Regions from separate parts of the Homo sapiens genome. Here region 1 is linked to region 2. Evidence: fine-mapped expression QTL. A gene starts in region 2. The other region holds a variant in brackets. All regions are shown on one strand. Distances are from middle to middle.

The links. PIP is the estimated chance that this variant, and not a neighbour inherited with it, causes the effect. A credible set is the group of variants that fine-mapping cannot tell apart.
Region 1: its variant is the best candidate, but not a certain one, in a credible set for the expression of PM20D1 in lung (TOPMed, PIP 0.51).

Annotation. Positions count from the first base shown.
Region 1 is chr1:205,885,986-205,891,361 of GRCh38, forward strand. PM20D1-AS1 (PM20D1 antisense RNA 1) reads left to right here. Exons shown (of 3, transcript NR_046097.1): 2 at 5,171-5,324. Among named protein-coding and RNA genes, the nearest start is that of PM20D1-AS1, 27 kb to the left of the region's middle. The variant A/G (reference allele first, on the strand shown) is at 2,338.
Region 2 is chr1:205,847,099-205,852,474 of GRCh38, forward strand. PM20D1 (peptidase M20 domain containing 1) reads right to left here and starts at 3,034. Exons shown (of 13, transcript NM_152491.5): 1 at 2,806-3,034; 2 at 787-873. The coding sequence starts at 2,974. RefSeq lists an enhancer at 2,963-3,257.

The DNA of each region.
Region 1 (5,376 bases), 39 kb after region 2:
AAGTGTCTACCCAGACCAAGACGCATTTTAGTTTCCTGACTCAAGGCGTATGAGTAAAGTCAATTTGCCAGTCCTGGTTGGGGGCAAATCCCTGAGATTGATGTGTAGGGAAAGGAGGGGGCCTGAACAATCCCTGAGGAGTAGTAGAATAGCAGATGGAACACTGAGAAGTGATTTCCTTAAGGATAGATTTCCATGGTGGAAAGGAAATGAGAAGTTCTAAGAGTCAGGCTAGTGGCTTGTAACCTACATGGGAGAAGCTATGAAATGACGACAGAATAGAATGGGCCTGTGAGGCTGGAAGGAGATACTTTCCTTGGTCCAAGAACCATTTGCCTTGTGTGGGAAGAGATTGATAGGTGGAAGTTTCAGTGGGGGAGTAGGTGGGAGTGACCAGATAAGAAGGAGAAAAGCTGCTGTGAGGGATAGAAGTTGGAATGCTAGCTGCTTTTTTAGCTACCTTATCAGCATAAGCATTGCCCTGAATGATGGGATCTGATGCCTTTTGATGGTGCTTGCAGTGAATGACTCCAGCTTCCTTTGGAAGTAAAGTGGCCTTGAGAAGAGTTTTTATTAAAGAGGCGTTAATGATGGAGGACCCTTGCATAGTGAGGAAACCTCTTTCAGACCATATAACAGCATGGTGGTGCAGGATATGGAAGGCATATTCAGAGTCACTATAAATATTGACGCAAAATTCCTTTGCAAGAGTGAGGGCTCAAGTTAAGGCAATGAGTTCAGCTTGCTGAGAGGTAGTGGAGGGGTGCAGAGTGGTAGCCTCAATGATAGATGTGGAAGATACTCTAGCATAGCCTTCCTTTGCTGGTGAGTGGAGATTAGGCCTGGTGGAACTGCCATCAATAAACCAAGTGTGATCAGGGTGAGGAACACGAAAGAAGGAAATACGGGGAAATGGAGTGAATGTCAGGTGGATCAGAGAGATACAGTCATGGGGGACAGTTGTGGTATCAGGAATAATGTGGGAGGCCAGACTGAAGTCCAGGCCAGGAACAATGGTAACTGTCGGGGACTCAACAAAGAGTGAGTACAGCTGAAGGGGCCAGGGAGCAGAAAGTATATGTGTCAGGTATGAGGAAGAAAATAGATTTTGGAAGTTATGAGAACTGTAGAGGGTGAGTTGAGCATAGTTTGTGATTTTGAGGGTCTCTAAAAGTATTAGGGCACCAGCAGCTGCTGCATGGAGACATGATGGCCAGCCTAAAACAGTAAGGTCAGGTTGTTTGGACAAAAAGCCTACAGGGTGTGGTCCTGGCTCTTGTGTAAGAATTTTGACCGCACAGTCCTGTACTTTGGCTGTGTGTAACGAAAAGGGTTGGGATGAGTTAGAGAGAGCTAGTGTGGGGGCAGCTTCTAGGGCTGTTTTTAAGGAACGGAAAGGGAAGTGGCAAAAGGATTTAGGATCTATGGGGTCAGCTAGGTTTCCTTTTGTGAGTTTATATAATGGTTTAGTCAGGATGGTAAAACTAGGTATCCAAAGGTGGAAGTACCTAACCATGCCTAGGAAGGGAAGAAGTTGTTATTTTGTAGAAGGGGTTGGGGTTTGGGAGATTGGCTGGACATGATCAGCTGGGGGAGCACGTTGTTTTCATGAAGAATTATGCTGAGATAGGTAATGGATGAGGAAGAAATTTGGGCTTGACTGAAGTAATGGGGGCTGTCCATGAAGCCTTGTGGCAGTACAGCCCTGGTAAGTTGCTGAGGCTGATGGGTGTCAGGGTCAGTCCAAGTGAAAGTGAAGAGAGGCTGGAATGAAAGGTGCAAAGGAATAGTAAAGAAAGCATATTTGAGATCTAGAACAGAATAATGGGTTATGGAGGAGTTGTGGAGGGAGGCATTGAGGATAGGAGAGTATATGGTTTTGGCACCATGGAGTGGATAGGCAAGACAATTTGGTCGATAAGGCACAGATCCTGAACTAACCTGTAAGGCTTGTCTGGTTTTTGGACAGGTAAAATGAGGGAATTGTAAGGAGAGTTTATAGGCTTTAAAAGGCCATGCTGTAACAGGTGAGTGATAACAGGCTTTAATCCTTTAAGTGTGCTGTGGGATGGGATATTGGCATGATAAGGGTGATTATGTTTAATGGGATAGTAATGGGTGTGTGATCAGTTGCCAGTGAGGGAGTAGAGGTATCCCACACTTGTGGATTAAGGTGGGGAGATAACAAGGGAGGATGTGAAGGAGGTTTTGAACTGGGGAAAAGGGCAGCAATGAGGTGTGGCTGTAGCCTAGGAATAGTCAGGGAAGCAGACAATTTAGTTAAAATGTCTTGACCTAATAAGGGAGCTGGGCAGGTGGGGATAACTAAAAAGGAGT[A/G]CATTAAAGAATATTGTCCAAGTTGGCACCAGAGTTGGGGAGTTTTAAGATGTTTAGAAGCCTGGCCATCAATACGCACAACAGTTATGGAGGCAAGGGAACAGGCCCTTGAAAAGAAGGTAGTGTGGAGTTGGTAGCCTCTGTATTGATTAAGAAGGGGACAGACTTACCCTCCACTGTAAGTTACCCAAAACTCGGCATCCGTGACAGTTCAGGGGGCTTCTGAGGTGATTGGCAGTGTCAGTGTTCAGCCACTAAGCCAAGAAGACCTGGGAAGGAGACAGTCAGAGCCTTGGGCCAGTTGGACAGTCCAATTTCCAGTGGGGTCCCGCACAGATGGGACACAGCTTAGGAGGAATCCCAGGCTGCAGGCATTCCTTGGCCCAGTGGCCAGACTTCCAGCACTTAAAGCAAGATCCTGGGGGAGGAAGTCCTGAAGGGATGCCTGGCTGCTGTGGCTTAGGCATTTTGAAGTTTTTGTGTGCTGGAGATATGGCTGGGGTTTCTCTCACAGCAGAGGCAAGTAATTGCAACTCTTCTCTATTATCATACACCTTGAAGGTGCAGTTAATTAAGTCCTGTTGTGGGGTTTGAGGGCCAGAATCTAATTTTTGGAGCTTTTTCTAATGTCAGCAGCAGATTGGGTAATAAAATGCATAGAGAATAAGATAGCCTTCTGGCCCCTCTGGGTCTAGGGCAGTAAAGCGTCTAAGGGTTGTTGCCAAATGGGCCATGAACTGGGCTGAGTTTTTATATTTGATGTTAAAAACTGATTTGGGAGAGGTCGGATAAAGAAAAAAAGGAGCATTAACCTTGACTATGCCTTTAGCTCCAGCCACCTCTTTAACAGGAAATTGTTGGGCAGGTGGGGGAGGGCTAGTTGCAGAACGAAACTGTAAGCCAGATTGGGTGTGAGGAGGGGAAGTGATAGAAAGATTATAGGGTGGGGGAGCAGAGGCTGAGGAAGAATTGGGTCCTAGCTTGGCCTGGCGAGGAGCAGCCTGGGGAGAAGGGGAGAGGTCAGATCAGTCTGTAGAAAAGAAGGATTCAAAGGACTCAGAGTTTGGGGTGGAGACTGAAGGAACAGACAGGAGCTAAAGAAGAAAGATTTGGGATGAGTTGCATTGGGCACAGAGACTAGGGAGGGACCAATGTGTATTAGAAGGCCTGGATGTCAGGCACCTCAGACCATTTGCCCATTTTTCAACAAAAATTATCTAGGTCTCGGAGGATGGAGAAATCAAAAGTGCCATTTTCTGGCCATTTAGAACCATTGTCGAGTTTGTATTGGGGCCAAGCAGTGTTGCAGAAGAAAATAAGACATTTAGATTTTAGTTCAGGTGATAGTTGAAGAAATTTTAAGTTCTTGAGAACACAGGCTAAGGGAGAAGAAGGAGGAATGGAGGGTGGAAGTTTGCCCATAGTGAAGGAGGCAAGTTTAAAGAGAAAGGTAGAGACATGGAGAAAGGGTTGGGGAGCAGCCCTGGGCTGCAATGTGGGTGAGCAGCCAAAGCAGGCATCCCCGCAATTGACTTGCCACCAAGGGAATGTGGTTGAATGACCAAGGCAGGCATCCCTGAAGATATCAGACGCCAATGGAATGTGGGTGAATAATCAGGCAGGCATCCCCGGAATGATTAAACACTAAGGGAAGGCTGCCTTCCTGAGTACATGACCAGCACCAGAGTTTTGGGTCCATGGATAAAATGTGTCTCCTTTGTCTCTACTAGAAAATGAAAGGAATTGAAATTAAGAGAAGAGAGGGAGTGAAGGGTGGCACCAAGAATGAAAGGAGAAAGAGGTTGAGGGATAGTGAGAAAGGTTGGAGAAGAGAGTAAAAAGAGGCCACTTACCCGATTTAAAATTTGTGAGATGTTCCTTGGGCTGGTTGGTCTGAGGACCAAAGGTCGTAGGTGGATCTCTTCATGGAGTGAGGGTGAGGACAGGGGACAGTCTCCTGAAGGAGTCCTGCTGACCTGGGTCTTTGGCACCAAATGTGTCATGCATCCATGTGAAGAGACCACCAAACAAGCTTTGTGTGAGCAACAAGGCTGTTTATTTCACCTGGGTGCAGACGAGTTGAGTCCAAAAAGAGAGTCAGCCCAGTCTATATCTTTTAAATGGGAAAATTCAATCTATTTACATGCAACGTTATTCTTGATAGGTGAGTACTTACATCTAGCATTCTATTATTTTCTGCTTGTTTTGTATATCCTTTGTTCCTTCCTCTCTTACTGTTTACTTTTGTGGTTGGGCAGTTTTCTGTAGGGATAAGATTTGAGTCTTATCTCTTTCTCCCTATGTGTTAGCTTTACCAGTGAGTTTTTATAGTTTCACATATTTTTATGATGCTGGTTATCATCTTCTCTGTGGGGAACAGGCCCCCCAAAACCTGGCCATAAACTGGCCCCAAAACTGGCCATAAACAAAATCTCTGCAGCACTGTGACATGTACATGATGGTCTTAACGCCCACGCTGGAAGGTTGTGGGTTTACCAGAATGAGGGCAAGGAACACCTGGCCCACCCAGGGTGGAAAACCGCTTAAAGGCATTCTTAAACCACAAACAATAGCATGAGTGATCTGTGCCTTAAGGCCATGCTCCTGCTGCAGATAGCTAGTCCAACCCATCCCTTTATTTCAGCCCATCTCTTCATTTCCCATAAGGAATAATTTTAGTTAATCTAATATCTATAGAAAGAATGCTAATGACTAGCTTGCTGTTAATAAATACATGGGTAAACCTCTGTTGGAGGCTCTCAGCTCTGAAGGCTGTGAGACCCTTGATTTCCTACTTCACTCCTCTATATTTCTGTGTCTTTAATTCCTCTAGTGCCACTGGGTTAGAGTCTCCCCGACCAAGCTGGTCTCAGCAAGTGGTCTCCATCATGGGGGCTCGAATCCAGGTTGAAGGGTCACCAGAGTGATGGTTGGAGAACATGGAACTAGCTGGAGGACACCTGAGTACTCTTAAAGCAAACCCCGTGGTGAGTAAGAAGGGGAGCTCAGAAGCATCAGGGTAACAATGGGACAAGTGTG
Region 2 (5,376 bases):
CCTTGAATTCCTGGAATCCAGCAACCCTCCCACCTCAGCCTCCTGTAACTAGGACTACAGGTGCTCGCCACCATGCATGGCTAATCCCAGAGCCATTTGTCCCAGGGTGTTAGAGAGGGGGCTGCTTGCTGCTCCTAGGCCACCTTCTCCCACCTCTGACAACTTTGGAGGGGTTGTTTTTAATTAGATTTAGGAAGGTAATCTCATCACTCTCCATGAGATTTTCATAAGGGGAGGGAGGAGTTCCAAGAATCCTTTTTTCCTCTGACCCATCCTTCCTCAGCTCTGTACTCAATGGGTGGTAGGGATGAGGGAAAAAGACTGATGTTATAGCTCAAAGTTGTTGACTGCCTAGAGGCCTAGAAATGTGTTAGTAATGAATCTGGGGTAGGCCTGAGTACGTGGAGTGTATATGTACCGGTGTGTTTGGGTGTGTAAGGAGGTAGGGGTGGGAGGAGCATGGAACATAGTTCTGGGCAGTTGCACAAGTAGAAGGAAATCCTAGTTCTACTTTTTGATGATTTAACATTTATTGAATGACACACATGTAGGGCAAAATTTGAGAGAGTTTGTACTCTAATGCAATGGCTGGATGAACTCTCAATCTTTGCCCTACATATGGTGGCTTAGTTTTTCCAAGAGCAAATCTACAGTCTCTACTCTGCCTATGGGAATTAGATTGTCCTCTGATCAGTCGCAAAATAAACTTCTTTATCACTTTGTAAAAGAACTGTGTCTCCATTGCTATTTCTACCACCCACCCCTTGCCCCTGATTTGCAGCTGACCTTTATGAATGTATTTTCCGAACTCAGCCAGGGCTGTAGTATTGGACTTCTCAGAGCTAAAAGTCACTGTTGGAATCTGGATGGCACCTGTCAGAGTCAAATAGAGATGAAAGATTGAAAATGAATTAGTCATTGTTTTTTTCTACAGTCCTCTGTGCACAAAAAGTTCTTTTGCCTTCATTATCATATTGCAGAGGGCAAAACACTAATGTGAGGTAGGCGCTATTGTTTCCTCTAATTCGAAGATGAGGGAAAATGCTTGGAGAGGTTAGGTGAGCTGTCTGAGCAACAGGCAGACTATAGATTTAAACCTATGTCTTCTGGGTTTGTTTAGGCTGATATGGTTCTTAAAGGCAAATACAGTCTAAGATTGGAGGGAAGTGGATTTTTGGATCCTGGTCTTGAAGGGAAGCTACTATAAATTGCTTCCTAAGGCCTCACTACCTCTGAAATCACCAATTGCTTTGATGAATCCAAGCTTCATCATTCTCAAGGCACCCACTGTCCTGGGTCCCTACATCAATGAGGCTTGTGTGTTTTTGTATGTAAAGGCTTATTCCTTATGCAGAGTCTCACTAGTCTGTCAACCAAGACCAGCTTTTTGGGCATATAATGCCTGGGAAGGGGTGGATTTAGAAGCCTCCAAACAAACTCCTCAGTCCTAAAATAATCTCACCCTCCTTACTCAGTTGTCTCAGTTCCTGAACCTTCACTGGGCTCATCCCTTTGAGTCTTTAAGACTTTACAGTTTTAAAGAGTTCCATGATCAAAGACAAAACCACTGGGAGGGAAAGCATGAATCATGAGAATATTGAATTAGACTGCTCTCCAAGAACACAGTGCAAACAAATTCACCTGAGGCAGGAAGGGTCTCTGAAAGACAAACTTCATCAGTTTTGCTAAGGATCAACCCTACAATAGCATAGCCCACCAGATAGATGGGGAAGCCGAGGTTCAGAAAGATTCAAGTGCCTACTCAAGGGCAGACCCAAGGATCTGATCTCAGGTGTTCTGTCCCCTGCTCAGAGTTCCAAGCTGTGTTGCTATGAGGTCCCTATTCTAGCTTATGTAGCTTTTGTTCTCTTCTGTGCAGACTGTGAGTGGCTGTCTAATGCCTTTTAGAGAATTATTTATGCTTTGGGAAAGCCCTGCTCTGCCTCCCAGGCTTGTCACTCTAGCATATGAACAATCTATATCCAACTATTGGGGTTAGCTTTTGGTCCCTGCATCTGCTTCTATATGTTTATGCAGGCAGTCTCTCTTAATCCATTACTTAATGAAAGGGAAAAGACTGGAGCTAAGCTGAATGGTAAAGAAGGATTTCATCCCATAGGATCTAGCACTCAACAGAAACTTTCCTGTTTCCTGGAAAATGCAGATTCAGAACAGGGATGAATTTTTGGTCTGGATTAGAGATCTAGAGGAGACATGTTCTTCAATTATGATTGAGAATTAGGAACATCCCACACCCCGGGAACACTCCACTCCCTTTCTTTAGAGCCATCTGATCCCAGCGAGTCCGACAGGCACTAGATGCTGTCACCCACTGCCCACTCTTTGCTGTGGGGCCCTGGGGAAGATCATTTAGCTGACCTAAGCCTCAATTTCTCTCCTTTGTAGATAAGACTAATATCATTTGTCTTATTTTACGACACCGCAGTAATTTATCAGGCATGCAAACTTTCAAAGGTTAAAATTGATGTACAAATGAAAGCTGGTGTAATACTCGAGGCAAGCAGGGGAAAGAATGGACGGTGGTCACGCCAAGAGGGGTGAAGTTGGAGCTTCCAGGTTAGGCAGGGCACACCAGAGTTCCAGGAGCCAGGTATGGGGGAAGTGTGGCGTCCCCAGACAGGGGCACGATGTGCTGGGAAGGGTGTTGGGGCCGGGCTGGGGTGCGTGTCGGGGCTCCAGCTGCAGTAGCAGATGCTTTGCGGCGGAAGCGGGGAGTCACGGGTTGACCTGGGGAGGGAGGGACCCACATATGAGCATAGGTGGGTGAAGGGGACCCGGGTTCACCTTTCAGCGCCTCTTTCATCGCGACGCGTTCCTCTTTGCTGAACTGAGAAGGGATTCGCGACGCCCTTTGATGCTCCCCGCTCCTCGGGCCCATCGATCTGGAGACGGTAGGGAAAACTAGGAGCAGCATAGCCACCAGGGCCAGCACGCAAACGCACCGCTGAGCCATGCTTCTCTCGAGCTCCTGCTGTCAGGCTACCGGGGTAGTTCTGACCTAAACGCCCAGACTAGCGTTTCTTGGCCCTAGCTCTGCTCTTATTCCGGCAAACAGCCTTAGCCACACCCCATATCCAGATCTGACCAATCATCGCTTCGCTAGGACAGCGGAACAACCAATTGACAGAATGACCCCGCCCAGGATCCTTAAGGCCTTTCGAGGGTTGTGGGTTTTCGTGCTGAGGCCAGCAGTTCCTGCAGAGCAGAGGTGAGGTCGGGCTCCAGGCTAGAGTCATGTCTGGTCCGCACTTGATCTCTCACCCATAAATCCTTTCCTGTATGACAACAAATCAAATAAAGGAGGAAAAGCAAAATAAAATGCACGAAGCTTATCAGACCATACTCTGCTGCTCGTTTTTTCCGAAGCTTAGAACCTGACTACAATTCCCTAGATCCTGGGGCGGGGGAGCTCTCTAGGTTCCCAGCTTGATTTCATCTGAAATTGGAACAAATTGCTCTGTTTATAGATACTGCTTTGAAATACCAGCTCAGAGGGTTGGCTCCTGTTTAGAAATTTCATTGAAAGTGCTTTTAATATTAATGTTAACACTACATTTTTGCAACTCTAGACAAGTACAGTAAGACTGAAGGATTTTTAGAAAGATTACTATAAAATATTTAAGAGAATTTTGATGTATAAATAATTTTGATGTATTCCACAAGTGAAATTTTATGGTTATTCAGAGTAGAGGATCATTCTGGAAAAAAGAAAACCTGTCTTATGTCACAGAAATATAAAATCAGATTTCCTGAAGCCAGAATAAATCGTTCCTTTCAGATTTCTTGATGCAATTTTATCTGGCATCACTCTCAAATTTTAGAATTCTCAAGAAAAATTCAGTAAGTGCTATACAACCAGTAAGGCCATATTGCTACCTGTGACCAAAGCTACAGGTTCACAGTCCTGGTGTTTGCATTTCATTTAAGATTTGCTTAAAAAAAAAAATTCAGCCATGTAGTTACTTTTCTTTTCTTTTCTTTTTTTTTCTCTCTCGGTGCCCAGGCTGGAGTGCAATGGGGCGATCTCGGCTCACCGCAACCTCCGCCTCCCAGTTTCAAGCAATTCTCTGGCCTCAGCCTCCCAAGTAGCTGGGATTACAGGCATGCACCACCATGCCTGGCTAATTTTGTATTTTTAGTAGAGATGGGGTTTCTCCATGTTGGTCAGGCTGGTCTCGAACTCCCGACCTCAGGTGATCTGCCCACCTCGACCTCCCAAAGTGCTGGGATTACAGGCGTGAGCCACCACACCCTGCCTAGTTACTTTTTAATAGCAACTTTAAAACAGTATCATGAAATACTTCACATATTATAAAGATATAAAAAATAACATAATGAACATTTCTGGATTCACCACCTAGTTTAAGATTTAGAATGTTAAAAATAGAGTTGAAATTTAAACATGAACATTGACATAATTTTTAGTAAAAAGTAGCTTAATCTCTACCTAACTTTAAAATTTTTTTAAAAGAGACTTTTTATTTTATATATTTATTATTTTTTAAAATTATTATTATTTTTGTAGAGATAGGGTTTCACTATTTTGTCCAGGCTGCTCTTGAACTCCTGGACTCAAGCAACCCTCCCATTTAAGCCTCCCAAAGTGCTAGTATTACAGGAATGAGCCACCACACCCAGCACAATTTTTATGATTGTAAAATTCATGTATATTTATGCCCTTGTGAAATATTTGGAACATTAAGTATAAAGAAAAAAATCACATGCTATCCCAATATCCAGAGACGTTCACTCATCATATTTTGATGTTATCCAATCTTTTTTCTCTGCACACAAATACCCACAAATGAAGGATGTCCCTGTTTTAAAATGAAACAGATGCATATACTGCATCCAAAGTTCTATGTTCTGCTTTTTTTCCTTTAACATTATGTCATAAACACTTCCTGGTCCTTAAATATTCTTTAAATTATCTTATCACATAATATTTGATAATTAAGAGTACGTACAACGTGTATGTAAAGTAAATAATAACATGAACACCCGTGATTTGGAGTTTAGACCTAACTGGTCAAACTGCATTTTTTCTCCTGTCACTGCTCCAATTCTTGCAATCTGTCTAATTCCCACACTGTTCCCAGATCTAGCCAATCATGGAAAATTATCAGTAGCATTGAAGGTGCATGTGTTCTATTGCCTTTATTTTCCAACTCCCTGCCCAAGGTAATTGTATGACCGTGTTGTGTGTTTTAAATAGTTCTACAACATATGTATGATATACATATATGTATAGTGTGTGTGTGTGTGTATATCTTATAAAAATGACATCATGTTGTGTGTAGTCTTCTGCAATTTGCTCTTTTTACCCAACACTGTTTGTGGGATTTATGCATGCTG